Linked DNA regions of Homo sapiens: region 1 is linked to region 2. A link means that fine-mapping ties the variant in region 2 to the expression of a gene that starts in the linked region. Tissue or cell type: whole blood. Region 2 holds a variant in brackets; the other region holds the start of a gene. All regions are shown on one strand. Distances are between the middles of the regions.

Region 1 (8,000 bases), 53 kb before region 2:
CATGGGACTCAGAGGGAGCGCCCAGGAGGGACTCCTCTCTGGCTGGAGGCAGAGGGCCCTGTGGGTTGGGAAGTCAGCTTGGAGTGGGGCTGGGCCAGGTCCTCACCTCCCAGCCTCCCCCCAGAACCACTCCGACCTGAGTGCCAGGAGGGCCCCTGTCAGGCCGTGGGGGCGGTGGCAGCGCAGCCCCGGTCTGCTGGATGAACTGCTGCAGGTTGCACTGACGGAGCTCTCGGTTCAGCTCCTCCAGCTCCTGAGCCTGAGCCTGGGGACACATGAGATCCTTAGGAGGCACAGCCACTGGGCTCCACAGCCCTTGTGCTCCGGAGGGAGCACTTTCCCTGGTCGGGCCCTGTGACCCCCATATCTGCCCACGTCAGGGGTTGGGGAGTGACAGGGGATCAGGTCCCCGGGCTCACCTGCCTCCCGAGTGGGACCCTGTGACCCCCGTATCTGCCCACGTCAGGGGTGGGGGAGTGACAGGGGATCAGGTCCGCGGGCTCACCTGCCTCCCGAGTCAGACCCTGTGACCCCCATATCTGCCCACGTCAGGGGTGGGGGAGTGACAGGGGATCAGGTCCCCGGGCTCACCTGCCTCCCGAGTGGGACCCTGTGATCCCCGTATCTGCCCATATCAGGGGTGGGGGAGTGACAGGGGATCAGGTCCCCGGGCTCACCTGCAAGGCTCGCTCTGCTGCCTCCAGGGCCCGGCTCACCAGAGCCAGGCTGCCCTGCACCTCCGCACTCTGCCGCTCCTGAACAGCCAGGTCCTGGTGCAGGCGCTCAGTGGCAGATGCCATAGGTGAGGGGGGCCCAGGGGCCTCCGCTGCCAGCTGCAGCTCAGCCTCCAGGGCACGGGCCTGAGCGTCCAGGGCCTGCAGCCGGGCGGCATGCTCAGCAGTGGCCGCACTTAGTGCCTGCAGGCGTGCCTGTCCCTCTCGCTCCCGGGCCTGCTCCCGGCGCAGCTCTTGCTCCCAGAAGGCCTCATGGCCCAGCTCCTCAGCATTCCTCTGCACCCTGAGCTCCAGGCCCCGCAGGTCTGTGCAGCAGCCTGGTGTGGGTGTCACAGGGGCCGCAGGCCCAGGGCGTGAGAGGCTGGGGGCTGGCTCGGGGGTCAGTGTTTTGCGGGGCTCACAGCCCAGCGCAGCCCGTGGCTTTACAGGGAGGCTGGCACGAATTAGGCAGCGTTCCGGGGGTGGACAGCTGTCTGAGGAGGGCCTCCCAGCTAGGCTGGGCCCTGTGCGCCTCAGGACAAACTGGACATCGCTGGCAAACTGTCCGCAGGTGGCCTGGGCGCCCACTGGACACTCTTGTGGCAGCAACTGCCGCTCCTTCTCCCGAAGCCGCTGCACAAGCACAAAGCGGCCAGTCTGGCCTGGGAAGAAGAGGAGAAGGTCAGCCTATGTCCCCCCGACTCTCTGTCCACCTGGCTTGAAGAGTTGGGAAGAACAAAAAGGATCAGCAACCAGCCCCACTCTCCTTGGGGGAGACCATGGAGCTGGACCACCAGGTCCCACTTCAGCTCTACCTGCCCGGCCTGCCTGACCCCGAGAGGACTCACCTATTGCTTGGGCTAGTGCGATGACCACTTCCTGGCAGGTGGTCTGCTCTGAGACCCCACAGACCACACGCTGGATGCCATCCACCCACACCTTCAGCTCCATGGCCGCCAGTCCCAACAACATGCCTGTCCTGTGGGGAGGGCGCAGGCACCGGGTCAGGACCTGCCTACTCCTATCGCAGGCTGGTCCTCCTCTCCTCATCCTCTTGGCCTGCCCTAGAAACGGCTGGGCTGCCGCCCCTCCGCACGGGCCCCACCCTCCTGTGCCAGCCCCACCCGCCAGCCACACATTCCTGGGGTGGCGGCCCTCCGGAGCACGCATCCTCCCCCACTTCACCAGCTTCCTCTTGCCACGCTCGCACTCCCGGAACAAGGCGAATCATTAACCAGATCCAGCATTTCCTACTCGCCTCACCTGGCTCGGAGGACACTGCCCCCTCCCCGGGCGGCGCGGAGGCGCCCGCACGCCAGGCCCCGCGGCCGCCGGCATGGGAACGCCCCACCCCGACCTGCTCAGGCCGCAGAGGCGCTCGGGGTCGCAACCCAGACCTCGACCCTGCAGATGGAGCAGACTCCGGGTCTGAGCAGCCCCCGCCAGCCCGGGGAGCCCCGCCGCTGCCGCCTAATCGCTGCGCTCGCCCCGAAAGTCCCGGTCCCCGCCGCGGGCACCGAAGCCCGCGCCGCGACCCCAGCCTGGCGGGAGCCAGGGCGTCCCCGTTCCGCAGGGCGGGCGCAGGTGCGGCGCCGCCCCCGCTCTCCGTCCGGGCATCGCGGAAAACTCTCCCCAGTTGGAGTCGGCGTCCGGCCGGCTCGAGGCGCGCCCCGCGCTCCCAAGTACCGGGGACCCGGCGCGGCTCACCTGGGCGCTCGCCAGCCTGGAGACCCGCTCCGGCGCCGCCGCAACCTGCCGCCCCCAGCGCCGCGGCGCACCCGGGCCCCGCGCCCCCATTGGCCCGCGGTCCGCACGCCCCGCCCCTAGCACCCCTATTGGCTGCTCAGCGCGGGCGTTCCGCCCCCTCCCCGCGCCCATTGGCTGCCTCTGTCACGCCCCTCCCCGACCCATTGGCTCGTCGCCGCGCCCCGCCCCCCCCGAGACTACAGGTGTGGGCGGGTCGGAGGGGGGCGCCGAGCCGCAGTCCCCGCCCCCACCTCCCGCCTACCGCGAAAAACGCGGAAATGCGGTGGCTGCGGCCCGCGGGCAGGCGTCGGGGTAGGTGTCTGGCCCCGCTCCTGGGCCGACTTCCTCAGCAGCCTTCTAGTGTGGCGGGTTCCCGCCCAGGAAGGGTCTCTGGCTTGAGATCCCGCAACCCCCGCCTGCGTCCAGGGGCAGCGGGGCCAGCCCCTCCCCTCGCTTCCCGGGCCAGCCTTTGGGGCCTACCGCAGCTGCAGTAGTCTGGACGCGCAGGGGTCGCGGGGTCGCAGGGTCACCAGTCCCGGCGAGGGAGGTGGAGCCCTGCGGAGCTGGCGGGCGCAGAGTCCTGGTGCGGGAGGTGCCCGCTCAGAAGGCCCGGACTCTAGCTGAGGCTCTTCTCCGACACCTTCCTGCCCCTTTTGGACCCAGTGCCAGGCCATGCACACAGTGAAGCTGGCTGGAAGCCGCTCCTTCACCCCCTACCCTACTGTCCCGCCCAGGGCCCCGCAGCCTCGCGGTCAGCTGTGTGGGCCATTGATTGTTCTGCCCAGCTCAGAAAGAGTTGTGGGCGTGGGCCTCCTGCCCGCCTGTCTCCTGTGCTCCCCCAGGGAGCCCTTACATAGCCGAAAGTTGCAGAGATGAAGGGTGAAAGCTGGAATGATTGGGTTTTAATGGGTCAGGTCTGGGACCTGGCTTTTCTCCTGGAGCAGAGGGAATACTTGTCATGGTAATGGGGTAGCCCAGAGGGTGTGGACACGGCTGGGAAAAGTGAGGCTTCAGTTTGGGGGTCAGGTAGGTGAGTGCCTGTCACTGAGGTCAAAGGAGCTGTGGGCTGGGCCTGGCGGTGGAGGCGGGTGCCTGTAGTTTCAGCAAGTCAGGAGGCGGAAGTGGGAGGATCACCTGAGCCCAGGAATTCGAGGTTAACGTGCGCTGTCATCACACCGAAGCATTCCAGCCTGGACAGCGGAGCAAGACCCTGTCTCTAAAGAATTAATTATTAATTTAAAAACAGGCTGTGGGCAGGAGTGTACTATTGCCAGTTAGCGTTCAGCACAGTCCCCAGCTTGTCACTGTTACCTGTCTGCTTCCCCCACACACCCATGGCTATGCTGGGCTGGCTCACAGGCAGCAGTGCCCCCCTATTTATCCCGCTGCTGCTGCCAGGCTAGGTAGGGGATGCTGGGGCCTCCCTCAGGGTGTTGGTCACTAAGTGGTCCCCCCGCTAAGCTGAGCAGTGGCTCAGCCTCTCACACCTCCTCCAGGCTGGGCTGGCCCAGAACTCACCTAGGGGCCTGGTCTGGGGTCTCCCTGGAGGCTCCTGGTAACAAACAGCCCCACCCCTTCTGGGTGCTGGTATCCATGGCAACGGTATACAGCCCTTCCCTCCCAGGCCTGCTTGGAGGTCGGGCCTCAGGTGAGTGCTGGGGGTAGGGCCCTGAGCTGGGGGGACAAGAGAGAGAAAGAGGGACACCACATCACAGGCAAAGGGCCAGCACCTGGGTGGCAGGGGTACACGCCAGGGACATGTCGGGTGGTGACCTGCTGCGCCAGCCTGGTCAGAAACACACGGGTGTGGACACCCACATGTGGGTCCCTTCAGAGAGCAACGCTCTGTGAGTAAGTGGTGACGCCTGGGCTGCTCCAACCTGTGTGGCCACACGAGGCGCACACGGCAGACGGGCCCCCCACCCCTCCCAGCTCCCGAAGAACATTGAGAATGGCCCCCAAGTCTGGCCAGGAGGTTGAAGAAACCGAGGAAGAGGCTCTCCTGTCCCCCACAGAGCAAGAGTCGGTCAGTGGTCACCTGGGACCTCCAGCAGGCGCACCTGCAGCCCCCGAGACTCCCACGTGCCTGCCAGACACCACGCCCCACCCCGCACCGGTGGTCTGCTCTGCCGACCCGCAGTAAGGAGGAGAGGGAGGACTGGTGAGCCTCCTGGGCCAGGTGGCCAGGGGCCGGCCTGAGTAAGCAGCAGGGTCTGCTGCCGCTGCAGGTTGGCTCTTGAGTCCCTGGACCCTCGCACACTGCGGCTGCTGTGGAGACAGCGAGAACTGGAGATCCAGGCCTTGCGGTGGGCCATCCAGAATGGCGAGGACGCCCGGCTCTGCCACATCCTGGAAGAGGTGGCGGGGCTTCCGCCCAAGAGGTCTGCAGCACAGTCCCCAGCCCAACCCAACCCCGCCCTGTCCTCGCCCGGACTCCTGGTTTCTGTCTGACCCCAACCCCAACCGCTGAGGCAGATCCTTACCCTCATCCTTGCCCGCGCTGACCCTCCACCCTGATCCTAAGTTAACACGCTATAGCCTCCACCCTAACCCTGCGCATGTGGATGGGTGCTAGACCCTTGTCCAGACCAGCCGGAGGCTGGCCAGCCCCAGCGGGGCTGTACTGTGTGCCCTTGGGGCCAAGGTGGCAGTGGAGCCCCTCCTTCTCCCCTCCTTCGCCACTGACCTGACATTAGGAACCCCTGCCTGAGCAGGGTGGGGGCTGCTGAGGTCACCCCTCCTCCAGGAGCTCCCACAGTCAGGAGAAACTCCTGCAGAACCAGGTCCAGAAGCTGATCCAGGAGTTGAAGGAACAGAAGGAGCGAGCCCAGTGGGTGAGGCAGGGGCACAGGGAGTGGGCAGGGTCCTGGTGTTGGGGAGCCAGGCTGGGGCTGGCCTGGGGGCCTTCTGCAGAAGACACCCCCCCACCACCAACCACAGGCCCTCTCGGAGCAGGAGAAGGAGCACCTGGAGGAGCGGCTGCTGCAGACCACCCGCACGCTCCAGGAGATGGAGGCCGAGCTGCAGAACTTGCAGAAGTCCTGCCTCCTGCAGCTGGCCCGCTCCTCGTGGGTGGGCCGCATGCTACGATCCCAGACTGGCAGTGTGGAGGTGAGCCTGTCCCCCAAGCCCTCCTGCCCCAGGCTGCCCTCCCCAGCCCTCCCCATCTCGTCGGGTGCCTCTGCTGGGGCGCCCTGGCCTGCCTGGAAGCCTGCCCTGCTCAGGTGCCTCTGGAACTCTGGGCTCCAGCAGGGAGGAATCAGGAGGCCTCAAAGCACAGGTGAGGTCAAAGAGGAGAGGTGCTGTAGGGGAGCACCCAGCCCCTGCCCACTGGCTTCCGGTCCCCTCTTGCAGGTAGTGACGGCAGAGACTCTGATGGACCCAAGCGACCTCTCTGAAAACATTCAGGCCCCCACCGGGGAGGTGAGCTAGGCCTCCCACGTGTGTGGTCTGGTATCTGGAGCCCTGCGGGAGGGGAGGACCATGTGCCTCTTGCTTCCTGGCCAGGGCTTTCGGCTGGAGGACGTGGATTGGAACAGCGTTGCCCGCCGGTATCCCAACCTCTTCACCAACATGGAGCCCAGCTCAAAGCAAAAGTAACTGCACAGAGCAGGGACTCCCCAGGGGCCAGAAGGGAGGGCTCACCTTGGCAAGTGAAGACGCAGGACACTAAAGGACCATTTAGTGTCCCTGGATAAGTCTCTTAAACCTTCCAATGCGCGTTCTCTGATCTGTAGAATGCGTTGGGGTTGAGGCAGCCATCACTGTCCTGCCATGAACTGAGCCTGGGTACTGGGAGGCAAGAGGGGCTCCCTGCTGCACTGCCTTGTGAGGCTGGACGGGGGCAGGGCTGGGGTCTGGAGCTGGAGTGGCCATCAAGCAGAGCGTGGTCCACAGGCAGCCCCGGCCCTGGCCACAGCTGGACACAGGGAGCCCAGAGTCCTCTGGAAAGCATTCCGAGCGGCATCACAAGACCGTGGAGTGGGGCTCCCTGCCCTGTCTGAACACCAGCAGCTCAGGGGGCGCTGACTCCGACTCCAGCAGCTGCCGGCCGGGCCTGCCTTCCTTCGTGCAGGTGATAGGGCACCCGCCCCGGGACCACCGCGCTTCCTCCGAGCAAGCGCTGGTGCAGGCCGGCAGCTACAGCAGGGACTCAGAAGGTGCAGTGGGGCGGGTCTCCCCTGGTTACCCTTCACCCACCCTCCACCCCCTCAGAGCTGTGATCTCACTCAGAGCCCTGGAGGTGGCCCTCCAGCCCCCAAGGTCCAGCCACCTTTCCTGCCCCATCTGACCCTGGCCCTGCTCCCTGCCCCGCCAGGCGTTGCAGGCCTGTTCTGACCTCACGGGGAACATCCGGTGGGGACTCCATTCGAGGGTCCCCTCCCCAAAAGCGCTGCTCTCTCTAGATCTCCAGAAAACCCACTCACCCAGGCACGGCGAGCCGGTCCTGTCGCCCCAGCCCTGCACAGACCCGGACCACTGGAGCCCGGAACTCCTGCAGAGGTAAGGGGCGAGTGACCCAAGCCTCCGGCGCCGGACTGGAGCTGGTTTCCGGGCGGGGCGCGCAGCTGTGCGGGTGGACCGGCCGCATCTCCTCACAGCGTCTCCTCTCTTCCCAGCCCGACAGGCCTGAAGATCGTGGCTGTGAGCTGCCGGGAGAAGTTCGTCCGCATCTTCAACCCGTCGCAGGAGAGCACGGCCGACCTGAGCGGCATGGTGCTGAAGCAGCTGGTGCGCGGCTTCCCGGAGCGCCTGTACCGCTTCCCGCCGGGCACGCTGCTGGCCCCGCGGCACCACGTCACGGTGCGCCCCGGCCCGGGAGCCCGGCCCCGACGGCCCGGCCCGGCCGCCCCTCACCCGCCGCTCCACGCCCCTCCAGGTCTGGGGCGAGGCGACCCGCAGCGCCAAGAAGCCGCTGCGCGCGTCCTCGAGCCGGGAGCCCGTTCCCCTCCTCTCCATCCGCGGCTGCGCGACGCTGCTCCTGAGCCCCAAGGGCGAGGTCGGTGCGGGTCCCCGGTGGGGCGGCCGGGGCTGGGGTGTGGGGGTGACCGACGCGCCCCGCAGGTCCTCAGTGAGCACCGGATCCCACGCCGCGAGACTCCGGCCCCGAGGGTCTTCGCCGACGGCACCGACTTGTCCATCGACCGCTTCCCGCTCCCTGAGGCCGGGCCCGGCGCCGACACCCGCAAGCCGCCGCGCCCACCTCGACCCCTGCGCAAAGGCCGGGTGCGGGAGCCCCGGGTCAGTCGCCGGAGACCAGGGTGGGGACCGCGGGTCCCCGGGATCTGGCCTCCCTCCCCAGGCCCCGACCCAGCAGAAACGGTCCCTCGTATCCCCTCGCTAGGACGGACCCCTACTTCCCCAGGCCCCGCCCCGGCCGCCCCCTGGTCCTCCAGTACGCCCCGCGGCCCCTGCCCCGCCCCAGGCGCGGAGCCCTCTAGGGCCGCCTTTCCCGGGCCGGCCGCCGCCCTCACGACCCTCGCCCCACCAGGACGCGGGGCCTGCTGCCCCCAGTGAGCTCGGGGAAGCTCTTCCACGCGC
Region 2 (8,000 bases):
AGTATATTTATAGAAGTAGAACAGGCACAGGACTCTCCACCCAAAGTCACCCTGGTGCCTCTCTCCCCGGGGTCTGACTTAGGCCTTCAGCACCACGGTGTTTTCTCTAGATGGCATCTCATGAACACTGGGGGTCTCTTGCCTCAGCCTGTCCCTGGATTCCCTTTCATGGGGAATGTAAAAGCTCCCTATTTAAGCTAACGTGTAGGCTGGTGGGGCTGGATGTGAGGGAGGGGCAGGTGGAGAAGGAAAGGGCAGCATCCCTCAGATCTGTGTGGAGCAGGATCGGAAGGAAAGGCACACTCGAGTCGGCCAGGACCCGGGGAAATGAGCGAGAATGGTCAGCTCTGGGGCGGTATATAAAACTGGGGGTGGGAATACTTCCATATACTCCCAATTCCACAGTGGGTGAACTGAGTAAGTTTAAAAATAAGATAAAGACATAACGAGGTGAGGCAGGTAAGTTCAAAAATAAAAATGAAGGCCAGGCACTTTGGGAGGTTGAGGCGGGCGAATCACAAGGTCAGGAGCTCGAGACCATCCTGGCTAACACGCTGAAACCCTGTCTCTATTAAAATTACAAAAAAAAAAAAAAAAAAAAAATTAGCCGGGCGTGGTGGCAGGTGCCTGTAGTCCCAGCTACTCGGGAGGCTGAGGCAGGAGAATGGCTTGAACCTGGGAGGCGGAGCTTACAGTGAGCCGAGATCGCGCCACTGCACTCCAGCCTGGGCGACAGAGCGAGACTCCATCTCAATAAAATAAAATAAAAATGAAGACATACCTTTCAGGGGCTGTGGCCGCACTGTCCAGGAGGGAGGCCCGGCCACAGACACCATGCTGGCCGTGCGCTCAGCACCTATACATACCTGGGCACCTTCCCCACAAGGTGTCACAAAAGGGAGCCCAACAGCCATTTTAAACATTTTCTTCACTCTTATGAGAATTGCCACGAACAAATCTAAGAGATCATGGCAAAGAAAAGAATGAAATGAAACCAGAACATTTCAGCAGCTTTTGCAAAGATGTCAAGAGAACCAGTCCAGGAGTCAGACTGGCGGCATCCTTCCAGCTTCTTGTCATGAATTCTAAACCTCACATCCAGACTCCAAAGCTTAGAGAGTTAAAGAATCAGCTACTGGTCACCAAGCTCACGTGTGCAGGATGAGGGTCACAGCCAGGTTGGCTGCCTTCCAGCCCTGAGCTTTCTTGGGGGTGTGTGTGTGTGTGTGTGAACCACCTTCTTTTTGAGACGGAGTTTCTTTTTTCTTTTTTGAGATGGAGTTTCGCTCTTGTTGCCCAGGCTGGAGTACAGTGGCACGATCTTGGCTCACTGCAACCTCTGCCTCCTGGGTTCAAGTGGTTCTCCTGCCTCAGCCTCCTGAGTAGCTGGGATTACAGGCATGCACCACCATGCCTGGCTAAGTTTTTGTAATTTTAGTAGAGATGGGGTTTCATCATCTTGGCCAGGCTGGTCTTGAACTCCTGACCTCAGGTGATCTGCCTGCCTTGGCCTCCCAAAGTGTTGGAATTACAGGTGTGAGCCACCGCGCCCAGCCAGAGTTTCATCTTGTTGCCCGAACTGGAGTGCAATGGTGTGGTCTAGGCTCGCTGCAACCTCTGCTTCCCGTGTTCAAGCGATTCTCCTGCCTCAGCCTCCCAAGTAGCTGGAATTACAGGTGCCCACCACCATGCCTGGCTAATTTTTGTATTTTTAGTAGAGATGGGGTTTCACCACGTTGGCCAGGCTGGTCTTGAACTCCTGACCTCAGGTGATCCACCCTTCTCGGTCTCCCAAAGTGTTGGGGTTACAGGTGTGAGCCACCACGCCCGGCCAGAACCACCTTCTTTAAAGATGATCAGGCCGGGTGTAGTGGCTTATGCCAGTAATTCCAGCGATATGGGAGGCTGAAGCAGGAGGATCACTTGAGCCCAATTCAAGACCAGGCTGGGCAACACAGGGAGACCTCTTCTCTACATAAAATACAACAATTAGCCAGGCGTGCTGGCGCCTGTGGTACCAGCTACTTGGGAGGCTGAGGCGGGAGGATCACTGGAGTCCGGGAGGTGGAGGCTGCAGCGAGCTGGGATCGCGCCACTGCAGTACAGCCTAAGCAGTGGAGTGAGACCCTGTCTCGAAAACAAATACCTAATAAAGGCAGTCAGAGGAGAGGTTTAGCAAATTGCTAAAGAACAAATCTGAGATACCGTTAGTTTCCTTACTTGCAATCTTCATCTGCCAAAATGTCAATTCTGTGAATTGCGGACTAGTCAAAAACTTAAAGAAAACCCACTTTTGTGGAGGTGGGGTCGCTTTGCGTTTCCCAGGCTGGTCTGGAACTCGGCCTGCGCCCCTCAGTGCCAGGGCTCCAGGCGACGCTCGGGTGTCGGCAGCAGAGTGGACGCAGGAGCAGCTCGGACCGCGCTCAGAACACTCGGGACGAGGCCGCGGCTCCGCAGGCCTTGCGGGCTGGGGTCCCACGAAACAAAGGCGGCAGCCAGTGGCCAGGACGGGCAGCGTGGTTCACGGGGCCGTGGCTCCCTCGGGGGTCGCGAGCTCGGCGCAAACGAGCCCCTCTACCAAGGTCGCCTAGAGTCGCGACCCCGACATGCGGAGCCGCCCCAGGGGGGTTTCTCCCGGGTCCCTCCTGTCCCGAGGCGGCCGCTTTCTCCGGGGGCCGCGCCCCGCGCCCCAGCAAGGCCCGACCCGCGCCTGCGATTCCGCCCCCAAGGCGCTGCCGCACCGGGCCCCGGCCTCTTCCTCCGAGGATTCTCAGGAATTGCTGAGACTTGCGTGCCAGTGCGAGGCCCACAACACGCACACGCGCCCGCGCCCGCCAGACCCCGCCCCCGGCACCAAGCCCCGCCTACTGGGGGAGACCACGCCCCCAAGCGAGACCTCCCTCACCGAGCCACGCCCCACCAGGCCCCGCCGCTGCGCCAAGACTGTGCTTAGCCGAGCCCCGCCCGCCGGGCCCCGCCCCGACCCCGAGACTACTCCCGCCAGGCCCCGCCCCCGCGCCGAGCCCCGCCCAGTAGTCCCCGCCCACGCACCTGACCACGCCCACGAGCCGGCTCGAACACGCCCGCGCCGCTGACTGGCGGGTGGGGTTGTCGACACGTTCAACCCGTTCTGCTGGCTCGAGAACGAAGTAGGCCGTCTCGCTCTGGGTCTCCAGGCCCGCGACCGTCCGCCAGTCGTCCCGAGGTCAGTAGCTCCAGCGGTGCGTCAGCGTCTAGCCAGGCCTCGCCCACGCCGGCCTTGGTCGGGCTTCTTGTAGACGCGGGCCTGGCGCTATTGAGGCCGTTGCTGCGCGGGCGAGTGGCGCGCTCCCGTGGCGGGGCGGGGTCGGGCGGGGCAGGGGTCCGGGGCTATCGAGGCGGGGCCGAGGTTGCGCTGGGCAGCTGCGCCGCCGGGCGGACGTGGCGCGCCTTGAGGACGTCATCGCGGTGCACGCTCCCCTTTGGGGCTTGCCGGAAGTCCTTGCCCGGGGCGCGGGGCTGCGCCTGCGTGGTTCGTCCTCACGTGGCCGTCAAGCCCTCTAGTGCCTTAGATTCCAGCGAGCTACGCAAGCAATCCTGGCCCAGCCGAGCTTGCTTCCCCAAATCCCGTAATCCTTGACCTTATTCCCCCAAAGAAGCGGCCTCCCGGGAAGGAGCGCCCTGGCGGAGAAGACTCGAACGGCTCCCACAGCCGGGCGTTGGGGGAAAGGTGGGCGGTCTTGGTCGTGCGAGGTCGGGGAGGGAGGGTCCTCCGCTCTCCATTGCGGAGCTTCGCTCCGGGACCACCGGGGGACCGGACGCCGGGCCGCGAAGCTGCCGCCTGGGGCTGCGGGGAGGAGAGCAACATAACTGGAATGGCACTTAGGGGCCGGTGTCAGGGTTGTCACCGGGGTTGGCGGAAATGACGAAGGGGCCCCAGGCACGTCGTGTTACTGGGCGAGGTTCCAGCCAAGGTGCCCACGCGCCTTGGGGGAAACCAGAGGACTTCTGCACCGTTTCCCGAGGACAGTTTGGCAGTGTTTCAGAAGGGCCTTAGAACCAGGCAGGCCCCCTTCTAGGATGGTGGAAAGCCTAAAGATCTGAAAACGGTCTCAAGTGTCGTCTTAGCGATTGGCTGACTAAACCG[A/G]ATGCAAGCCGGAGACTGCACACGATGTTGCCGTTAACAGTTACACTGGGCCGGGCAGTCAGAGGCAGGCGGATCACCTGAGGTCAGGAGTTCGAGAACAGCCTGGCCAACATGGTGAAAACCCGTCTCTACTAAAAATACAAAATTAGCCGGGCGTGGTGGCAGGCGCCTATAATCCCAGCTACTTGGGAGGTTGAGGTAGGAGAATGGCTTGAACTCAGGAGGCGGAGGTTGCGGTGAGCCGAGATCGTGCCACTGCACTCCAGCCGGCTGACAAGAGCGAAACTCCTTCTCAAAAAAAAAAAAAAAAAAAAAAAGTTACATTAGGCTGGGTGCGCTGCAGCCTGTAATCCCAGCACTTTGGGAGGCCGAGGCGGGCGGATCTCTTGAGCCCAGGAGTTTGCGACCAACATACTGAGTTTGGCCAAAATAGTGAGACCCCCGTCTCTACAAAAGATAGAAAAAATTAGCCAGTTGCGGTAGTGAACGCTTGTAGTCCCAGCTACTTGGGACGCTGAGGGAGGAGGAGCACTTGAGCCCTGGAAGAGGAGGCTGCAGTGAGCTATTTTCTCATCCCTGCTATAACGAATTTGTCACAGGCTGTTTTATAGGCCTGGAGCTCAGAAGCCCGAAGTGAGTTTTAGGAGGTTAAAATCAAGGTGTTGGCAAGGGTAGTTCCTTCTGGAGTTTCCCAAGGAGAATCTGCTTCTTTTCCTCTTCCAACTTCTAGAGGCCACCTTCTTCCATCTTCAAAACCTACTGTCTCTGCATAAGAACTCTCATGATTATATGCCGGCCGCCCAGACACCCCAGGGTAGCCTTCACATCTCAATATTCTTAATATTTGCAAAGTCCCTTTTGCCACTTAAGGTAACACCACAGGTTTGGAGATTAGGAGGTGGACATCTTTCAGGGCCATTCTTATTTTAAAAAATGTACTGTCGATAAGAATAGTTAAAATGTAAAATATTTGAAGGGATTTATTCTGAATCGAATATGAGTGACCGCGGCCGGTGACACAGCCCTCAGGGGATCCTGGGAACATGTGCCCAAGGTGGTTGGGGCAGTTTGGTTTTACATGTTTTAGAGAGACATGAGGCATTAATGAAATACATTTAAGATATCCATTGGTTTGGTCCAGAAAGGCGGGACCAAACAAAAAAAAAAAGATTTTGAACATGCTTCCCGAGCTCAGGCATGAAGAACTCTTGACTGACAGAAACGGAGGGTGTGTCCAAAGTTTTGAGGACGGCCGAGCGGCGCTCCAAAACCCGTCCTCACAGCCTCGCCCCGTTCGCCTCAGCTACAACAAATCATCGTCAACCTGTTCCACCTTCTCCAGTCTGGTAGCAAAAAGGGGTGTCTCAGGTTTGCTTTATTTTATTGTTTGGGCAATTCCTGGAATCCGGCCTGCTTGTGGGAGGAGGCAGGGGCCGGTCCCTCGAGGGTGGTGGGAGCTGCCAGAGCTGGAGGGATGGTCTGGGGGAAGGCGGCTGTACGGTGGAAAGGCTGGTTGGGGCCAGAGTGGGAAACGGGATGCGGACGTCAGGCTTCACCCCCGACCCAGGGGGGAGTGGGAAAGCTGGGGTAGTAGCTGGGACGAGGCCCGGGGGCTGAGCCCAGAGGGTCGAGTGGGCGACGACTAGCGGGCGCGGCCCCCAGGGTGGACTCCCCGCCAGCCCCGGCCTGGAGGCTCCGCCCGCCCCCGCCTGGGCGGAAGGAACGCGGAGCGGCTCTGGCCTTGGGTCTGCGGCGGCGGCGTCGGGTGAGCGTCCCGGGCGGAGCGGGCGCGGGCGGGGGCAGAGAGGCAGGGGAGACCCCCTTCGTGTTTTTGTGAGGTTTCCTCCCAGCCCTTTAGTCTGCAGCAGGGTGTCCAGAACTAGCAGGTTCGAGGGACTCGACGCGGGCGCGGGCGGGGGTCCCAGGGACCGGGAACTTTTGCGCGTCGCCTGAGCGTGGCCCGTGTCTCCCTAGAGGGTGGCCCCGCGCCCCCGTCACGTCGGAACATAAGGACCTGAATTGGCCTCCAGACGGCCCCTCCCATGTGGCTCCCCAGGGTGGGGCCCAGGCCTTGGGTGCTGCGGAGACCTCCCTCCGTAAGGTTGAGAAAGTCTGGTCTCCGGATAAGGGACCGTTAGGGCCTCTGTTCAGATCCCTGCCTCAACCAAAGCAGGCTGCCAGCTGGTGGTAGTGGGTTCCTGAATGTGCTTTTAGCTTTGGCTGTGTAGGGAGCCAGGGACTTCTCCAGTCACAGAGAAGGGCGTTTACTCCCGCATTTTCATGGGGTCCTCAGTGGGATCCGTGACCCACAGAGATTCAGAAGGGCCTTTCTGGGATACAACAGGGTCTGGCCAAGCCTGAGGGGTAGGGACGGGGCTACTCCCGCAGCGCTAGTTGCAGATGGTCACGGGAGCACTGGCCACCCTGAGCTCCCACCAAGCTTTCCCAGGAGGAGGACACCCTGGGGCCACCTTTCATCTGGCTGCAGAGGACACAGGAGTGTCAGGCTGGATTTGGGGAGCGTGTGCACCCTGGGCAGCCCCCTGAGGCTCTCCTTCCACCCGCCCTCCCGCCCACAGTGCCTCCTGATGACTAGATTCTGGAGTCAGAATTTGGGTGACCACACCCTGGTCGGTTTTGCTCACGTGCTTCGGGTCGGTTGGATTCAGTTCCTCCATGTGGGGCCGTGGGATGTCACCACCCTTTGCCACTGTCCTTGCAGGCCGGGCGCCCAGGCGTGTGGACCCGAGCCCAGCCTTGCGTCTTTCCTCCCAGTTGGTACCAGGGGCCTCTTGCCTCCACTCATGCAGAGTGGACCAGCCGCCTCTGAAGCAGCCCCGGGGAGAGGAGTGCCAGGCACACAGACTCAGGAAGCTGGGGGTGTCAGGGCACCAGGAGCCTCTCAAGCGGTCCTGTTGGCCGTCTTTCTGAAGGGCAGCTGGGGTTGCATCATTTCCCCAAGTGGATCCTGCCAACTTTCTGGGGCTTCTGGATGAGAGCCCTCTCCCCACCCCACCCACCCCTCCCCGCATTGTGGCATCAGTGCTGCTGCTTCCAGGGAGCCTTCCTGGCCATCCAAGCCTCCTCTCCAGGTTCCTGCCCTGCTGTAGTCCCCAGGCCAGTGCTTGGCAGGTGCTCAGGGAATGTATCCACCAACCAAGGTTTGGGGTGGCTGTCTCTGCCTGACCACTTTCCCCAGGCCCCTGGCGGGTACCTGAGCTGTGCTCTCAGGGCCTCAGGAACCTCCTTCCATATTCAGGGCCTGTGCCTGGGGAGGCTTCAGGGTGTAGCAGCTGTGCCCATCCCAGGCTGACCCACCCAGCTTGCCTGGTAGCCCAGCCTCTGGGCTAGTGTGCCGTGGGGCAGGGGATGTGCTGTAGCCTGGTGCAGAGTCCCCAACCCCAGAAGGGGGCCATGGAAGCTGACACCCCAAGTGGCCGCCCCCCTGCTCTGTCTTGCTTCGGACACTGTGGCCGGGTCCAGGATCCTGGCATCCTGGGAGGTCTCTGGCTTTGTGGGCAGCCTGCCTGGCCCGCACAGTCTGCCTGTCCTGAGGGTGAGACACAGGTCAAGCCCACAGACCCCCTTGCTCCCCTGCTGGGGCCTCCAGGCTCACAGACCACCCCACCCTACCCTGTCCTTGCCCAAGCAAATGAGAGGCAGGGGCTTCCCGGGCTGCTGCTGTCCCGCCCTCTGTGGGGCAGGAGGAGGTGCCCACAGAGGCTGGGTGGTGATAGCCAGGAGATGGGCTGGCATCTGCATTACCCAAGCTCTGCTGCCCATGGTGGCCTTTCTGGGGGTGGGTGCTGGTCCCTGCCCCCTGCCCCACCCCTGATGTCTGCTCCAGAGACAAAGGTGGGGAGGGTGCTGAAGA

Evidence for each region. PIP is the estimated chance that this variant, and not a neighbour inherited with it, causes the effect.
Region 1: LMNTD2-AS1 starts here. The variant in region 2 is fine-mapped to the expression of LMNTD2-AS1 in whole blood (TOPMed, PIP above 0.99).

The regions. Positions count from the first base shown.
Region 1 is chr11:555,454-563,453 of GRCh38, reverse strand. It overlaps LMNTD2-AS1 (LMNTD2 antisense RNA 1), which reads right to left and starts at 4,192. Exons shown (of 2, transcript NR_147607.1): 1 at 3,978-4,192; 2 at 3,348-3,675. It overlaps LMNTD2 (lamin tail domain containing 2), which reads left to right and starts at 2,716. Exons shown (of 14, transcript NM_173573.3): 1 at 2,716-2,771; 2 at 4,475-4,598; 3 at 4,688-4,840; 4 at 5,206-5,293; 5 at 5,415-5,570; 6 at 5,814-5,882; 7 at 5,967-6,055; 8 at 6,357-6,619; 9 at 6,866-6,962; 10 at 7,079-7,262; 11 at 7,339-7,458; 12 at 7,524-7,720; 13 at 7,951-8,000. The coding sequence starts at 2,738. RASSF7 (Ras association domain family member 7) reads right to left here and starts at 2,484. Exons shown (of 6, transcript NM_003475.4): 1 at 1,977-2,484; 2 at 1,562-1,692; 3 at 678-1,375; 4 at 137-265; 5 at 1-58. The coding sequence starts at 1,685. RefSeq lists enhancers at 1,106-1,681, 5,943-6,779.
Region 2 is chr11:502,318-510,317 of GRCh38, reverse strand. RNH1 (ribonuclease/angiogenin inhibitor 1) reads left to right here and starts at 3,076. Exons shown (of 11, transcript NM_203387.3): 1 at 3,076-3,205; 2 at 5,322-5,494. It also overlaps a transcript of LRRC56 not described here. RefSeq lists a cis regulatory region at 3,722 and an enhancer at 3,638-3,807. The variant A/G (reference allele first, on the strand shown) is at 4,127.